2 separate regions of the Homo sapiens genome follow, and region 1 is linked to region 2. The links come from fine-mapping of genetic effects on gene expression. Tissue or cell type: whole blood. Region 2 holds a variant in brackets; the other region holds the start of a gene. All regions are shown on one strand. Distances are from middle to middle.

The links.
Region 1: LMBRD1 starts here. The variant in region 2 is fine-mapped to the expression of LMBRD1 in whole blood (INTERVAL, PIP 0.96).

Annotation. Positions count from the first base shown.
Region 1 is chr6:69,792,494-69,801,672 of GRCh38, forward strand. LMBRD1 (LMBR1 domain containing 1) reads right to left here and starts at 4,517. Exons shown (of 16, transcript NM_018368.4): 1 at 4,320-4,517. The coding sequence starts at 4,388. RefSeq lists enhancers at 3,468-4,024, 3,849-3,898, 4,025-4,580, 4,209-4,438.
Region 2 is chr6:69,654,747-69,663,925 of GRCh38, forward strand. No RefSeq gene overlaps it. Among named protein-coding and RNA genes, the nearest start is that of LMBRD1, 140 kb to the right of the region's middle. RefSeq lists an enhancer at 339-840. The variant G/A (reference allele first, on the strand shown) is at 5,685.

The DNA of each region.
Region 1 (9,179 bases), 140 kb after region 2:
TACTGCTGGCCTTTCAACTGGTGACAGAATAGCAGGAAAGAATTGACTGAGAAGGGAGTTAAGACTTTGGAACAAACAAACAAAAAGGATCTAGGCTCAAATTCTTGATTTTGGGAAATTTATTTTTCATAAAATGTGACTTTGTATTAATATTTGAATGAGCTTGTTTTTAAAGGAATTCATAAATATTTTTAACATTCCCCAAATTCATTCTGAAGTCTTTGAAAGCTGAGTCTCATCTTTATATCCTCAGCAGTACTTGACACAAAGTGTTCCAATAAATTTTTTATTGGATTTCAAGAATGAAAGAAAACCTGCATTTTGTAGGTATTACTGCAAACAAAGGATTTTGCCAATATCAGGCAGACAAGCTAGGAAACGGCAACCAGGCAGAAGAGTTAAGCCAGAGATTCCCAAACTTTTTGGTCTCAGAATCCCTTTATAATGGTTTTAAAACTGATAACCTTAAAGAGCTTTTTGTTCATGTTATCAATCATTACTACAATATAAAATAAAACCAAGTATCCTCGTCTATAGGAATACTTCTTTCATAACAAGTTATAAGGATTAAATGAGATATAAAGGGTTTACCATAGTGGCTGGCCATAGTAACTGCTTAACAAACAGTAGTAGTTATTAGATAATTTGATAAAAGAAACAAATATATAACTCTGTTAACAATTATAAAGAAAAGTTTCAAATAGTCCCCCCAGCTTCTCCCAAAAGATTCAAAATAAATTGGTCTGAACACTGAGATTTTTAAAACTCCCCAGGTGGTTCTGATGAAAGGTCAAGTTTGCAAACCACTGGGGCAGAAGAAGGAATGAGAAGAGATGAATCTTCATTAAACTAATGAGAATAGATGACATACTGTATGGGATCTTGTTAAACTGCAGATCTGATTCAGTAGGACTGGGGTCACATATTTGGTATTTCTAACAAGTTCCCAGATGATGCCCACACTTTAAGGAACAAGAATAAATTTGCTTTACAAAAATGGAGAGTCTCCTATTGTAATGGCAAATACAATTTAAAGGTGGTGTGAGCCAAATTACAGAGGACATTGAAGCTAGATAGAACAGTTTAGATTTGATATAGTAAAGACAGACATAGTTAGATTACAGGCATGAGATACCAAATCTAACAATTCCTTATGTGTGAAGAAACTGAAGTCCATTCTTTTTGCCCACGATCACAAAAGTAGGCAACATTCATGTCCTGAATCTTTTTTTTTTTTTTTTTTTTTTTGAGACGAAGTTTCCCTCTGTTGCCCAGGCACTATCAGAGCTTGCTGCAACTGCCTCCACAAACCACCTCCTGGGCTCAAGCAATCCTCCCACCTCAGCCTTCTGAGTAGCTGGAACCTCAGGCATTTGCCACCTCGCCCGGCTAATTTTTTGTATTTTTAGTAGGAATGGGGCTTTGCCATGCTGCCCAGGCTGGTCTCAACTCCTGAGCTCAACTGATCCACCTGCCTCAGCCTCCCAAAGTGCTGGGATTACAGGTGTGAGCCACCACACCTGGCCCATGTCCTGAATATTTAGTAGATGATTGGCAGAAGTTCTCCAAGTGTGAAATCCCTAGGCCCTGGTAGTCCCCAGAATCCTTTCTGGAGATTCAGAAGTTGAAAACTATTCTCATAATAAATACTAAGATGCTATTTGCCTTTTTCACTGTGCTGACATTTGCACTCATGGTTCATAGCCACAGTGGGTAAAACTACTGGTGCATTAGCGTGAATCAAGACAGTGGCACCAAACTGCACCAGTAATCATTGTATTCTTCACCACAAGTTCAAAAAGGGACAATTTAAATTAAGACTGTGCTTCACAAAGCAGCATAAATTCATTTTATTGAAATTCAACCCTTGACTCTTTTTAATACTTTGTGGGGTAAAATATGAAGCATGCGTACATAAAGTCCTGCTGCATACCAAGATGTGATGGCTATCTCCAGGAAAAGTTTAGAGTTAAAAGCTAAACCAACCACTCTTCAAGGAACACCATTTTTACTTGAAAGAACAATTGTCAAACTGGTTATTCAGACTTCGCTTTTTGGCAGATTTTGTCAAATGAACAAAGGGAATCTATCACTTAAAGAAAAACTGACAGTATTTGATACCAATGATAATTATGAGTCAAACTTTCAAATGAAAATTGGATTTTGAAAGACTTACATCCACAAGTATGAGCTTGACAACTCTTCAATACTTAGAATTTTCAGAGACATTTCTGACAAGATCAGTTGTAATTTAATGAAATGTGATATTTTGATATTGTGTAATGAAACGTATCCATATTTAAAAGATGTGCATAACTCAGTAAACCAACATTTTCTAAGTGGCCATGGCATCATGTTATAAAACCATGCATGGGTAAAAGAGCCTTTCAAAGTGCAAGATGGGCTAATGGATTTTAATGTAACAATGAATGAAATGCTCATTGATAGGGTTTCAGATTCCACCTTGCAGCTGACATGAATCTTCCACTTGTTGAGCTTTGGTGTAGTGTCAAAAAACATCCACAATTATCTGAAAAACGCTCCTCTGTTTCTGACTACCTATCATTGCAGCTGTATTTTCTCCATACACTTCGACTAAAATAACATACCCCAAAAGACTGAATGTAGAAGGCAACAAAAGAAACCAGCCTTTCTTCTAATAAACCAGGATTTAAAGAGATTTGCAGAAATTTAAACAAAAGTCCTTCTTCCTAATGCTTTTATCCACGACAACATTCAATTCTGATTTTATTTGTCCTTGCTGTAATATTGCCAACTTAAATGGCCTCTCTTCTTCATCTATCCAAACTCTACCACAATTCTCATTTTCTTCCAATATTGTTGTCTATTCTCTTAAGTCCTGCTTTATTTATAGTCACACTTTGGCTTTCGGTCCATAAAATACATGTTTCAAGAATTTCAGTTTTCTCACTTATCTTCAGGCCCTCTTTAAAGCCGTATTTTGTTTGGTTTACATCCTCTTACAATTCACACCACTTCTGTACCGTAAATGTTTATTAATTTATAACTGCCAAGATAGTCTCACGTAACTTTCATACATTACATGCTTATTTATTTTTTTCTAAACAAACTAAATCTGATGGACTGGAAAAGCCAGGGGGCTCTCCAAATACAGGACTGGGTGGCTGCAGAGACCACAGTCAACCTTTAGGGTTTCATTTCCTCCAAGAGAGGACTAACATGTTCCAGGGTAAAGGCAGTGTTTTTATCTGTGACAGTGATGGCAGTAACAAGAGGATCCTTTTCTTAAATTTTCACACCATTCTTTTCTTTTATTTTCTTTTTTTAGTCTCTACTGCAAAAATCTACTAGAACATACTACATAGGTACCAGACACCAACTGGATCTGACAATTAAAGTAAAACCAAACAAGCCTGATTTCCAGAACTGGAGGTTTTTGTTTTGCAATGCAAAAAGGTCAAAATACGTGAGAACAGAAAGTAACTACAGCCTCGGACGATGAGAAAAGAGAAGATTTGAGAAGGTAGAGAAGTTATGAAAGGAAATAAATTGAACTCCCAAATAAACCAAAGGGTTTTAATATGAACAGGGAAGTAATAGCCAGGCCACTCTGAGACATTTCTATCTACACTTTGCTCACTGAATATGCAGAAATAAGATCGTTGGAAAAGAAAGCACCTGAGGTCAGACAGGTAGTAGTATATACTCCGATACTGGTAATAAAGAGGGCTACAGCTCCGCCCTCCACAGGTATCTACACCAATCAAAAAAAGATTAGAAGAGAATGTGACACCTGGAAGTCAGAACGAGCAACTCACGTCATCAAGGCAGAATCACACAATGGGCACAGAGGTTGGAGACTCACTAGCCCCAAGGGTAGGGAAAATGAGGGAAAAAACATACAGAGAAGGTGACAAGTAAACAACGCCAGCGCCTACTTAACTTGCAAAGATCCAGCGCTGCCGCCCCACACCGTGTGACAATGTTTTACAGGGGACGAAAGGCCACCACATACTTCTCAACCCCGAGGGTCTCTTCCGCCCCCAAACCCCACCGGCCCCATTGCCCAAGTCAGCGATGACGGCAAGAGCTTCCAAAAAGGACCCTGCAACCCTAGACGTCATCGGTGAAATGACAGCAAAAGAGACCGGAAATCGACACCCCCCTGCCCCCGCCGCCCGCCCAAGCCCCCAACACTAAGGAGCCCTCCACAGTCCAAGCTAAAAGCGGGGCGGGGCGAAGAGGGTCTCCGGGGCCCGGAGAGGCCAACTGCAGGGCCTGCCCCTCCCTTCCTCCCCCAGTCCAAACATGGGGAAAACTCCAAGCGCCTCCCCTACCAGTAGTAAGAGGCCGAATATGCACCAGCCGATCACCAGCTCCGCCGAGGCCGCGCCAGAAGTCGCCATCTTCGCTTCCGGTCCAGACCAACCTGAGCGCCCGGGGTGGGGAAAGGGGAGGGGGAAAGGGGAGAGAGCGCGAGATATACTGCACCCGCGCACCCTAAAGGTTAAAGGGGCGGAGGGGGAGGAGCAAGTGGTTGCCAAGGAGACTGGACCCACTAGCGTCCCCTGGCGGCGAGCCGAGCGGGGGCGGGGCAGCAAGGACTGCTCAGGGGCGGGGCGCGTGCGGACGCAGTGACATCACCACGCTGCCCTCGCTGGCTTCCCTGCAAGCTGAGATGTGGGAGGGCTGCAGAGCAGGGTGTTGGCTCATAGCTGGGCAACCTATTGAGATATTTGACTCAGCCTAAGTTGATAGACTAGAACAGCAAGGGAACTCCACAAAGAATGGGCTAGGTGGACCTGGAGATCCAAGTCAATTTTAGAGGTTTATACTTCTTCACCAAAAGGAAGTTTGGCCCTCGTGTACAAGGTGGAATGTGTGTGATTAGCAGAACTCCTTACCAGGTTGCAAGAATGGCTGATGTCAGGCCTCTGAGCCCAAGCTAAGCCATCATATCCCCAGTGACCTTCACGTATACATCCAGCTGGCCTGAAGCAACTGAAGATCCACAGAAGTGAAAATAGCTTAGCTGATGACATTCCACCATTGTGATTTGTTTCTGCCCCACCCTAACTGATCAATGTTCTTTATAATCTCCCCCACCCTTAAGAAGTTTCTTTGTAATTCTCCCCACCCTTGAGAATGTACTTTGTGAGATCTACCCCCTACCCCCAAAACATTGCTCTTCACTCCACCTCCTATCCGAAAAACTGTAAGAACCAATGATAATCCCACCACCCTTTGCCGACTCTCTTTTCGGACTCAGCCCGCCTGCACCCATGTGAAATAAACAGCCATGTTGCTCACACAAAGCCTGTTTGGTGGTCTCTTCACACGGACGCATGAGACAGCTGACTCTGAATAAAAGTTGACTAGCTGCCCAAATCACTCTAATTTACTGGCACTGGTGCCCAGCCGGGATAACTGGTTGGCTGGACATGAACTTATCACATGATGTTATAGCCTTTCTATTCAGATGTATGCATGCCTGTGAATTTCCATGATAGCTTTGTATGTAAAGGTATATGCATCAGCAAACAAAACACACTGCCATAGGCCCACAATGAAGAAGAAGGAGGAAACTCTTGGGATGGCTTACCTGAGTCCACAGGGAGGAAACTCTTGGGATGGCTTACCTGAGTCCACAGGGGTGTGAGTGCATGTTTCACCACTGTGATGTAGTCAAGAAACAACTCTGAGAAAAAATACCATCATCTTTTTCCAATGTATTATGTGGTGATGAGTTATGCTCTACCTATAATCTACTTCCGGCTGGAAGCCTGAGGGAAAAAATAGGATGGTCCTTCCTGCCTGGACAGAATAAGAAGGGAATAGGGGAGAATACAGTTTTAACTTGAACTGGTACCATCATAAGCTGGCTTTAAGCCCTCTAGACCTGCAAATGTTTGAATTTCACTCTTTCTTCCTAATAATTCATATCCCTGGAGACCTCTGTCATAGCTTCCTTAAAGTGAAGAGAGGTATCGCTTCCAGGTTGATATCTCTATTCCAGATTGTATAGAGCACCCTTGACATAAGTAACTACTTCTTAGAAAAAGATTCTGTTTACATTTCAAAAGGAATCATGCCAAAAGGGACCAGATGTTCACCTAATCAATAGAGACTGCACCCAACCAGATAACGACATAACCAGGCACACTCTTTTATTATTATTATTATTATTATTATTATTATTATTATACTTTAAGTTCTAGGGTACATGTGCACAACGTGCAGATTTGTTACATATGCATACATGTGCCATGTTGAGGTGCTGCACCCATTAACTAGTCTTACATCAGGTATATCTCCTAATGCTATCCCTCCCCACTTTCCCCCACCCTACAACAGGGCCCAGTGTGTGATGTTCCCCTTCCTGTGTCCAAGTGTTCTCATTGTTCAATTCCCACCTATGAGTGAGAACATGTGGTGTTTGGTTTTCTGTCCTTGCAATAGTTTGCTGAGAATGATGTTTTCCAGCTTCATCCATGTCCCTACAAAGAACATGAACTCATCCTTTTTTATGGCTGCATAGTATTCCATGGTGTATATGTGCCACATTTTCTTAATCCAGTCTATCACTGATGGACATTTCAGTTGGTTCCAAGTATTTGCTATTGCAGGCACACTCTTTACTATCAGTCAACACCAGAGGACTCTGAGGCTATAAAAAGAGTAGAACTTCAACAGCTCAAGATAGCCATCTTAACAGACACTGTCTTACTGTCACTCATGATCAGCATCTAGCATCTGCCACCAAAGGTTCTGCTCAAATCAAAGACTCTTCCTTGCAAAATGTTGATATGCATCCTGATCAGCCGAGGACACTCTCCTTGTCCATGTTGCTCTCCTTGGATTGGTTAATCCTGTTTTCCTAACCTTTCTCTTGATGTTAAATGTTATTTTCTTTTAGAATGTTTAGCCTATAATATTTATATGTTATGTATACTACTATGTTTGGTTTGCAATATTGACTGACTTGTGGAGTGGCTAGAGCTTTGTGTCCTTGGTTCTGACTACCAAATGAATGGGTACTACTAAGGAAAATTACCTCCTTCGGACCTTCATACAGCTCATGGCTTTTATGATTGAAATAGCATCAACAAAAGTCTGACTGTGGAAAGACACAAACTTGCAGGGACTTGAGCCACTGACAGGTAGTCACTTATATCTCCTCCACAAGCCCCAGAGCATACTGAGGTATACTTAATTATTCCTTTTCCTGCTGAGGTCTTGTAATCTTCTTCTAGAAGCTCATTTAAGTTGGAGGAGAGGCCTAAGACAACCCCAAGCCAGTTCTTCCCCTTTCCCCAAATAGTCTAAATCCCCTCTGTAGGAATGATGATACATACCTTGCACCAACAACTTTGGGAGCACAGGCCAATCCCAATGTAGCTCCATTCTCCTAGTTCTACAATCAAAGGAATCAGCCCTTTTTGATTATACCCAAGAAAGTCAGCCCCTGATGCTACAGTCCACTGTAGTTCTCTCTACTGGGTCAGACACTAGCCCTCTGTGTCCTCAATTTCAGGGGCCATATTTCAAATTCTCCAAGTAGCTCCCTTGAGGCCTCCCTTACTAGGCTAAGGGTTAGAAGGTAACACCCCACTCCAACCCACCCACCCCTCCACCTCACCCACAAATACACCACTCTTTGGAGTTAAGGATGGAATTCCACAGGTCAGCAACAGTTCTCATTAAATAAATCTGTTTATGAATCTTCTCCTCTTGCTAATACATTTGTAGAAATTTTATTTGTCTGAGGGGTCTAAGAGTTATATAATAAATTCTTGAATCCCTTTTTAATTATGCATATAAGGGAGAATTCATAGTTAGAATGCAGACAAGTAAAAATAAAAATCTGACCCTCCTCCATGGAAGCCCTGGGGCCTCCGTTTTTTCTGGGGACCAGGATCCAGGTCTCCTGCTCACCTGGAGGTAAGAAAGGGAGCCCAGAGTCAGGACCCAGTGAGAGGGTTCTGGAGCTGAAAGGAAAAAGACTCCCCTAAGGATCTTGAGGACAGTCAAAATTTGCTGAAATGTCCCATTTCTGGAGAACCCTACCATCTCCATGACTGCAAGCCCATGTTAGCCTGCTGGAGAATGAGATACCATGGGGAGGAGAGCCAAACTGCTCCAGTTGACAGCCAACTCACACTCAGAAGCAGAGCCGCCTAGTCAACAGCAGCTGATCACATATGCCTGAAGGAGCCCACCTGAGCCCACAAGAATGGCCCAGTTGAGCCCTGCCCAAATGGCTGAGCAACTCCATCATGAGCTAGGAAGTCTTGCATGGTTTGTTATACAATAGCTAAGTAATATATGTACCCAGTATGAATGGGATGTCAGGATTCAATGACAGGTTGATTACTAGTTACCTGCAAACAGAAAGCACCCGACAGGTACAGATTTCATTTTCCCCTTATTTAAAGTTGGATCTCTTGTTAGATGGTGGTGAGTTATACCAAAATGCATGTAGATGTGTGCATGTGATTGGTGCTTAAATTACGCAGTCCGCCATGCCACAGGAGGAAACAGCCATGGCCTGACCATTAGGGCCAAGGCCAAATAGCAAATAGCAAAATAAGAAGTTCACCTTTAATCTATTTCCTCCATACCTAAACTTTGGAGATCAAGGATGTAGACAGATCTGAAGACATTGAGTTTCCTTTTTGAGGGGCCTTATCATCCTTTGTTTACTGTCTGATCTCTGGAAGGAAGATGGACGCCAGGTGGGCAGCAGTGGTAACTGTGGACACTTTCTTCTTGTAAACCCTGCTTTCTAGGGGCAAAAATCTCTCACCCTTGGGCCTGAGGAGAGTTGTTGGGAGGCAGAGGCTGTTCCCTCACTTCTGGCAGGAAAGAGTGTTTCAGGCCCTTCACCTTCCTTAGATCAAGAGAGTCAGAGCCCTCAGAGCTGCACTTCAGTGTGGCAGCCACTAGCCACGTGGGGCTGCTGAGCACATGGAATAGGCTGCTCTGAACTGACATGTGCTGAAAACTTAACATATAGACAGAGTTGCCAAGATTTAGTGCCAAAAGCTATATACTTCATTAACAATTATATATTGATTACATATTAAAATGATAATATTTGGGATATATTGGGTCACATAAATTATTATGATAAAAAATCTTCCCCACTGCTTTAAATTATATGTGAAATTGGAGCTTTTACTGAATCTGGACTAAAT
Region 2 (9,179 bases):
AATCTCAGCAGAAGTACAATGATTGGCCAATTCATTCACCACTGGCCCACAAGAATAGACATTCACTGCTGCTGGTAATGGAGGGTCTAAAACAATTTGAATGTTGAAGGGATATAACCTCCTCAGCAAGAAGAGCAAAATCATAATATGCTTGGACCATGTAATCCAAAAAAGCAAGGCAAATTGATTATATAGGACAAGGACTTCCTTTTGAAGAATAAATGAAGACATAAAGAAATTAACAATAAATCTTGATGAGAGTGGCCAAGGTGGGCGACTAGAAGCAGCTAGTGTGCATGGCTCTCACAGAGAGGAATGGAAGAGGCAAGTAAATACATCTGCAACTGAAATATCCAGGTACTCACATTGGGACTAATCAAGGAAACAACTTGACCCATGGAGAATGAAGAAAAGCAAAAAAGGACTACAGGCCATCCAGAAGCAACATGGACCCAGGGGAACCTCCCCTGCCCGGGAAAGTAGTGAGTGAATGTGTGACACCAGAAAACCACGCTTCCCTGATGGAACTTTGCAACCCTCCAGTCAGATCTCCTTGTGAACCTACTCCACTAGGGCCTTCTGTCTGACAGACAGAGCTATGTGGAGTCTCAGCAAAGCAGCCACTCAGGCATGCATGGAGACCCTGGAGCATTAGCTACTTGAGCTTTCTGGCAAAAGTAGCTGCAACTCTGGCAAAGTGGGATGTTAGACCCCCATACATACCCATAGGAAAGAGGCTGAATCCAGGAGGCTGAGCAGTGACAGTCAGCAGGCCCCACTTCCATGGCATCTCACAAGATGAGACTCACTGGCTTGGAATTCCAGCCAGCCACAAGTAGTGGCATTGTACCTCCCTAAGAAGGAGCTCCCAGGGGGAGACCCAGGCTGCCATCTTTGCTGTTTGGGTGCCTGAGACGTTTCAGCTTTCAGGCTTCAGAGAGTCTGAGCCCACTGGGGGTGAAAGGGATCCCTCAGCACATCACAGCTGCTCTACCAAAACATAGACTGCTACTTTAAGCAGGTCCCTGATCCACTTCTCCTCACTGGGCAGGACCTCTCAAACTGGGCCTCCAGCAACCCCTGCCAGTGTTCTCCAGCTGACAGAGAGTTGAGTTCTCCCTGGGACAGTGTTCCCAGAGGGAGAGGCAGGCCACCATCTTTGCTGTTTGGGCAGCTTAGCTGTTCCAGCCTTTGGGTTTCAGAGTGTCTGGGGAAACTGAGGACTGAAGTAGACTCACAGTACAGCACAGGTACTCTACCAAAATGTGGCCAGACTGCTTTTTTAAGTAAGTCCCCAATTGCATTCCTCCTCACTGGGTGGGACCCCCCAAACAGGATCTCTACCCACCTCCTACAGGTACCTTTGGGATGGCAACAGGCCTGTACCTCCCTGGGACAAAGCCAGAGGGAAGGATAGGCTGCCATCTTTGCTGTTTCATAGGTTCACTGGTGATACTTCCAGGTACTGGAAAATCTAAGGTGACTAGGGACTGGAGTGGGCCCCTAGCATACCACAGCAGCCCTACAGAAAAGTGGAAAGACTGTTATATGGGTGCCCATTCCCCTATCTCCTCACCAGGCAGGTTCTCCAGGCCTGGACTTCCAGCCATCACCCCCCGGATCCACCAGTAGAGCTATTGAGCCAGTAGCAACTCAGCAACTCCATGGACAGAGCCTCCAGGGGCAACTGAAAGCCTCCTCTGCCACTGCCTCTGCAGCAGAACTGTCCTTGCCACCCTCAGACTATCAAAGGAGCAAAGACCCAAAGTGCATTATCCACACCTCCAACATACTGCAGCCAACCCAAGGAGAAGAAGCCAGTCCATCTCCCACGGGTCCCACGTACCCTCCACCGCTTGACACCAGACAGGAAAACCTTGGCTGGGGCCCTCAGCACAGACCCTTCATCCTGGGCTGATTGCACTGAGCGATTACTGACCTGCATCTCCCTGAGTTGGAGCCCCCAGGAGACAAGCAAACACCCCTTGGCCATAATCATACTAAAGTCTCTTGCTCGCTGCCTCCAAGATGGGGAAGGAACATAAATACTGAGATCACCCCAGAGCTGCAGTGGGCAGCCCAGGAATTCCAAGTCACAGTCTACAGCCAGCACTCAAGGAGGAAAGGAATCCACACTTTCAGAGCATTGAAAGGGAACGTGGCTGCAACTGAGAGAACATAGGGGAGCCACATAACTAAGCAAAAGTCCACCAACTGACCAATAAGTCTAAGCACCACCTGCTGGATCACACCCCAAAGCTTCAACACCAAAAACACCTCACTAACATACCCCCCTCTGAAACCAGAGACAAGAAGTCAGCTTCAAATAAAGACCCTGCACAAAACCTCAGCCTGTTGAAAACATCCAGAAAAGAAGAAGAAGAAAAAAAAACTTCCTGCCCAGGGAAGCAGTAGTGAATGAATGTGTGACCCCAGAATACTACGCTTCTCTGATGGATCTTTGCAACCCTCCAGTCAGGAGATCTCCTTGTGAACCCACTCCACTAAGACCTTCAGTCTGTGCTCAATCTATGCTGCAATTAAAGGAACATCCACATGTGGAGATGAGAAAGAACCAACACAAGAACTCTGGTAACTCAAATTGCCAGAGTATCCTATGTTCTACAAACGACCTTACCAAATCTCCAACAAGAGTTCTTAACCAGGCTGAACTGGCTAGAATGAGAGAAATAGAATTCAGAATATGGAGAGGAATAAAGATCATTGAGATTCAGGAGGGCAGCAAAACTCAACCCAAGGAAAATAAGAATCACAATAAAGTGATACAGGAGCTGAAAGACAAAGCTGGTATAAAAAAGAACCTAACTGTTCTGACAGAGCTGAATAATACAATACAAGAATTTCACAATGCAATCACAAGTATTAACAGCAGAATAAACCAAGGTGAGGAAAGAATCTCTGAACTTGAAGACTGGTTCTCTGAAATAAGACAGTCAGACAAAAATAAAGCAAAAAGAATAAAAAGGAATGAACAAAACCTCCAAGAAGTATGGGATTATGTAAAGAGGCCAAATCTATTAATCACTGGCATCCCTGAAAGAAAGGGGGAGAAAGCAGACAATTTGGAAAGCATATTTCAAGATGTTGTCCATGGAAACTTCCCCAGCCTTGCTAGAGAGGCTAACAGTTAAATTCAGGAAAAACAGAGAACTCCCACAAGATTGTACGCAAGACATTCATCCCCAAGACACGTAATCATCAGATTTTCCAAAGTCGAAGGTAAAGAAAGAATGTTAAAGGCAGCTAGAGAGAAAGGGCATGTTACCTACAAAGGGAACCCCATCAGGCTAACAGCTGACCTCTCAGCCAAAACCCTACAAGCCAGAAGAGATTGGGGGCTTATATTCAACATTCTTAAAAAAAAAAAAAAGTCTTCAACCAAGAATTTCATATCCAGCCAAACTAAGCTTTCTAAGTGAAGGAGAAATAAGATCCTTTTCAGATAAGCAAATGTTGTGGGAATTCATTACCACCAGACCTGCCTTACAAGAGATCTTGAGAGGAACGCTAAATCTAGAAGGGAAAGACCACTATCAGCAAATACAAAAACACACTTAAACACACAGACCAATGTCAGTGTAAAACAACCACACAAACAAGCCAACATAGTAACCAGCTAACATCATAATGACAGGATCAAATTCACACCTGTCAATACTAACCTTGAATGTAAATGGGCTAAATGCTCAACTCAAAGGCCCAGAGTGCCAAACTGGATAAAAAAGTAAGACCCAATAGTATGCTGTCTTCAAGAGACCCATCTCACATGTAATGTCACTCATAAGCTCAAAATATAACGATGTAGGAAAATCTGCCAAGCAAATAGAAAACTGAAAAAAGCAGGGGTTGCAATCCCAATTTCAGACAAAACAGATTTAAAACCAGCAAAGATTTAAAAAAAAAAGACAAAGAAGGGCAATACATAATGGTAAAGGGTTCAACTCAATAAGATCTAACTATCCTAAATGTATATGCACCCAACACAGGAGCACCCAGATTCATAAACCAAGTTCTTAGAGACTGTATTAGTCAGGGTTCTCTAGAGGGACAGAACTAATAGGATAGATATAGAAATAGAGGGGAGTTTATTAAGTATTAACTGACATGATCACAAGGTCCCACAATAGGCCATCTGCAAGCTGAGAAACAAGGAGAGCCAATCCAAGTCCCAAAACTGAAGAACTTGGAGTACGATGTTCGAGGGCAGGAAGAATCCAGCATGGGAGAAAGATGTATGCTGGGAAGCCAGGCCAGTCTCATCTTTTCACATTTTTCTGCCTGCTTTATATTCTAGCCACACTGGCAGCTAACTAGATGGTGCCCACCCAGATTAAAAGCAGGTCTGCCTTTCCCAGCCCACTGACTGGAATGTTAATCTCGTTTGGCAACACCCTCACAGACACACTCAGGATCCTTCAATCCAATCAAGTTGACACTCAGTATTAACCATCACAGAGACCTACCAAGAGACATAGACTCCTACACAACAATAGTGGGAGACTTCCACACTCCACTGACACTATTAGACAGATCATTGAGGCAGAAAATCAACAAAGATATTCAGGACCTAAACTCAACATTGCACCAAATGGATCCGATAAGCCTTTACACAACTCTCAACCCAAACAAACAAACAAACAAGGAAAAAACAGGATAAACATTCTTCTAATCATCACCTGGCAAATACTCTAAAATCTACCACAAAATTGGACATAAAACAATCTTCAACAAATGTAAAAGAACTCAACTTATACCAAACACACCCTTGGACCACAGTGCAATAAAAATAGAGGTCAAGACTATGAAAATTGCTCAAAATCATGCAATTACATTGAAATTAAACAACATGCTTCTGAATGACTTTTGGGTAAATAATTAAATTAAGACAGAAATCAAGAAGTTCTTTGAAACTAATGAGAACAAAGATACAACATACCAGAATCTCTCAGACACAGATAAGGCAATGTTAAGAGGAAAATTCATAGCACTAAATGCCCATATCAAAAATTTAAAATGATCTCAACTTAACAACCTAACATCACAATGAAATAATTAGAGAAGCAAGAACAGATCAGCAGAAGATGAGAAATAACAAAAATTAGAGCTGAAATGAAGGAAATTGGGACATGAAAAACCATTCAAAATATCAACGAATCCAAGAGTTTGCTTTTTGAAAAAAAAATAATAAAACAGACCACTAGCTAGACTAATAAAGAAGAAAAGAGAAGAAAACCAAATAAACATGATTAGAAATGACAAAGGGGATGTGACTACTGACTCTACAGAAAAAAAAAAAAAAAAAATAAGAAGCTACTTTGAACACCTCTACACACACAAACTAGAAAACCTAGAAAAGATGGATTAATTCATGGACACATTCGCCCTCCCAAGACTGAGGCAGGAAAAAATTGATTCCCTGAACAGATCAATAATGAGCTGCAAAACTGAATCAGTAATAAATAGCCTAACAACTGAAAAAAGCTTGGGACCTGATGGATTCATAGCCAAATTCTACCAGAGTACAAAAAAGAGCTAGCACCATTCCTACATGCACTATTCCAAAATATGGAGGAGGAGGGATTCCTCCCCAACTCATTCTATGAGGCCAGCATCATCTTGATACCAAAAACCTGGCAGAGACACAACAACATCAACAAGAAAAA[G/A]CTTCAGGTTAACATCCTTAATGAAGATCAATGCAAAAATCCTCAAAAGACACTTGTAAACCGAAATAAGCAATGGTGAAAAGATTCTCTATTCAATAAATGGTGCTGGGATAACTGGCTAGCTATATGCAGAAGACTAAAGCTGGAACCCTTCTTTACACCACACGTAAAAGATCAATTCAAGATGGATTACAGACTTAAAACTATAAAATCCCTGAAAGACAACCTAGGCAATACCATCCTGGACATAGAAACCGGCAAAGATGTTATGAGAAAGACACCAAAAGCAATCACAACAGAAGCAAAAATTGACAAGTGGGATCTAATTAAACTTAAGAGCTACTGCACAGCAAAAGAAACTATCAACAGAGTAAACAGACAACCTACAGAGTGGGAGAAAACATTTGCAAACTATATGTCTGACAAAGGTCTAATATCCAGCATCTATAAGGAACTTAAATTTATAAGAGAAAAACAACCCCATGAAAAAGTGAGCAGAGCACTTGAACAGACACTTCTCAAAAGAAGACATACATGTGGCCAACAATCTTATGAAAAAAAGCTGAACATCAGTGATCATTAGAGAAATGTAAATCAAAACCACAATGAGATACCATCTCACACCAGTCAGAATGGCTATCATTAAAATGTCAAAAAATAACAGATGCTAGCAAGGTTTCAGAGAAAAGGGAACACTAATACATGGTTGGTGAGAGTGTAAATTAGTTCTAACATTGTGGAAAGCAGTATGGCGATTCCTCAAAGAGCTAAAAGAAGAACTGTCATTAGACCAGCAATCCCATTACTGGGTATACACCCAGAGGAATGTAAATCATTCCACCGTAAAGACACATGGCACGTGAATGTTCATTACAGCCCTATTCCCACCAATAGCAAAGACATAGAATCAACCTAAATTTCCATCAATGACAGATTGGATAAAGAAAATGTGGTACATTTACACCATGAAATACTATGGAGCCATAAAAAGGAACTAAATCACGGCTTTTGTGGGAACATGGGTGAAGCTGAAGGCTATTATCCTTAGCAAACTAACACATGAACAGAAAACCAAATACTGCATGTTCTCACTTATAAGTGGGAGTTAAATGATAAGAACTTATGAACACAAAGAAGGAAACAACAGACATTGGTGTCTACTTGAGGGGGGAGGCTGGGAGGAGGGAGAGCAGCAGAAAAGATAACTATTGAATATTGGGCTTAATACCTGAGTGAGGAAATAATATGTACAAGAAACCCACATGCCACGTGTTTGTCTATGTAACAAATCTTCACATGTACCCCCAAACCTAAAAGTTTAAAAAATAAATAAATCATAAGGAGAAAATAGAACACAAAATGGACTTTCTGAAAAAAAGCACTTGTAATTTGATTTTAACATATTTACCATATAATCATGTATAAACTCAATCATTTAATTAAAATTTAAATATATACATATATAATATATATGTATAATAAGCAATTAAAAATTTCAACAGACAAACTAAAAGAGAAGATGGTCAAAGCCGAGAACAGTCTTATTAGTCTGGAAAGAGTCAAAAACACAGAATTAAACAGAGAGAGCTGAATAGAATAGAAAGGACAAAGGAAGGGCTGTTTTAAAAACCTGGAAAATATGGAGCCTTTTCAGGGAGCCATCTGAATAAATCATCTCCATTAGTTTCCTTCTTTCTTCACTTTTCACTTTTCTTGTGCTGCTGATCTAGGGCCCAAACTTGGAAACCACAAGGCTACAGAAGTCAAAGTACCAAAATAGTACAAAGGCTGCCTCTTTGCCTTGTAAATGTAACTTAGTTTTAATGATACAAATTTCACACACACACACACACACACACACACACACACACACGCATATCCCATACACAAGTAGAAATTTGAAGTTATTTAGAATGAGAAAGATCACAGAAACATCAAATCACCATACCAACCAGCATTTCCCTTTTTTCCAAAAGTGAGGACACAGTACAAGTCTAACATGAAAGTATTATCCAAGTTTGCAAGATTCCATTACTTTTTAAGTTATCAAAAGCATAAACTGATGCTTATGTATACCCCAGATGTGTCTCCCTGAACAACTTAAATTTCCAAAAAGTTGTTTTCATAGTGAATTTCTAAAAAAACGAAGGCATATCCTGCCCCCACTTTGATCCTTTTAACTATAGATGCTTTCCTTTTAAAATTGTTTATTCCAAATCTTAATAAAAATGGAAAAATAAGATTAAACATTCAGGTAAAAAGAATGTTTTCAAAAAGTGGATTTGTGTGATGTTTTTAGCATTATTTACAATAATGCACTAACTACACTATATCCAAATTGTAAAGCCTTACAGCTTGAGGAAGATAAGAGAGATTGGGGAACAGGAGTGGAAGCTCTGTTAGTGATTTCAGCAGGTAAGCTAATGGAGCAGTGTGCTTCTCTAGTATGAAGGAATCTATTTACTGCCTGTAAATATTTATTTTTAAAATCCTAACATTGTAAGTCAAAGCCCAGTATTAATATTTCCCAATCCTTTACCTTTGACAGTGTTTATCCAAAGTTTTTTGTACTTAAAAGGATTTTTGCTTATTTGTTTGCAAAAATCCTTACTTCTTTCATGTCTGATTCTCGATGAGGTGGAATAAACAGCCCTACTTGGCATTCTGGTCAGAAAAAATTTAGGAATTTTTTCTGACTGATTACTTGCTTGTTGGGTACAGCTATGAGTTTAAATAAAACTATATACATGTGTCTCACGAGGTGGGGTCTAGGACACCTGCTGATGGCTGGGAAACACCATCACAGATCAAATGGCTCACAATGATATAAAGAGCTTCTTTGGAGGGAAGGTCACAAATTATTTGCAGTGAAGATGATGAGAGATTCTGGAAACAATGTCACCAACCAAATGTGTACAGAAGGTTTCACAATGAAGGCTGTCGATATTATTGGCCTCACACTGTCATTTACAGTCATCACATCTGTGCTTTTCTGAGAGCTCTTGAGTGAGCCCACTTATGAGATGTGACTTCCTCAAAGTTGTGACAGGATTCTGTTTTGTGGTCCTTACTAGTCTTTGTAATTCCAGCTTCATCCAGAATCTGGCACGCAGTAAAAGCTCACCACATGTTTCTGAGTGAAGGAGAGCTCTGCATTTGATAACTGTAACTCCTTATAAAATTGTTGTTCTCAGGCAAATAATATCATAGGAATGCTGCTGTAAATATAAAGAAAGATTTATCCTGAAAGATTCATATATCACAGCTAGACTACCTCTTCAGTATCTATTAATTGAATATCAGACAAGAGACTCCTTAAGGTCTCTACACTCTCAAAAATTGTGACTCTTGAAACAATTGCCAAAGTTTATTTTCATGGAAAACATCTGCTGTGCCTAAACGACTAAACATTTCCAACAGACATAATTTTTATCCAAGGATGCAGGGGAGAGGGGAGGCTTGGATGAAAGAAATTAGCAAACCATTATTCCAACC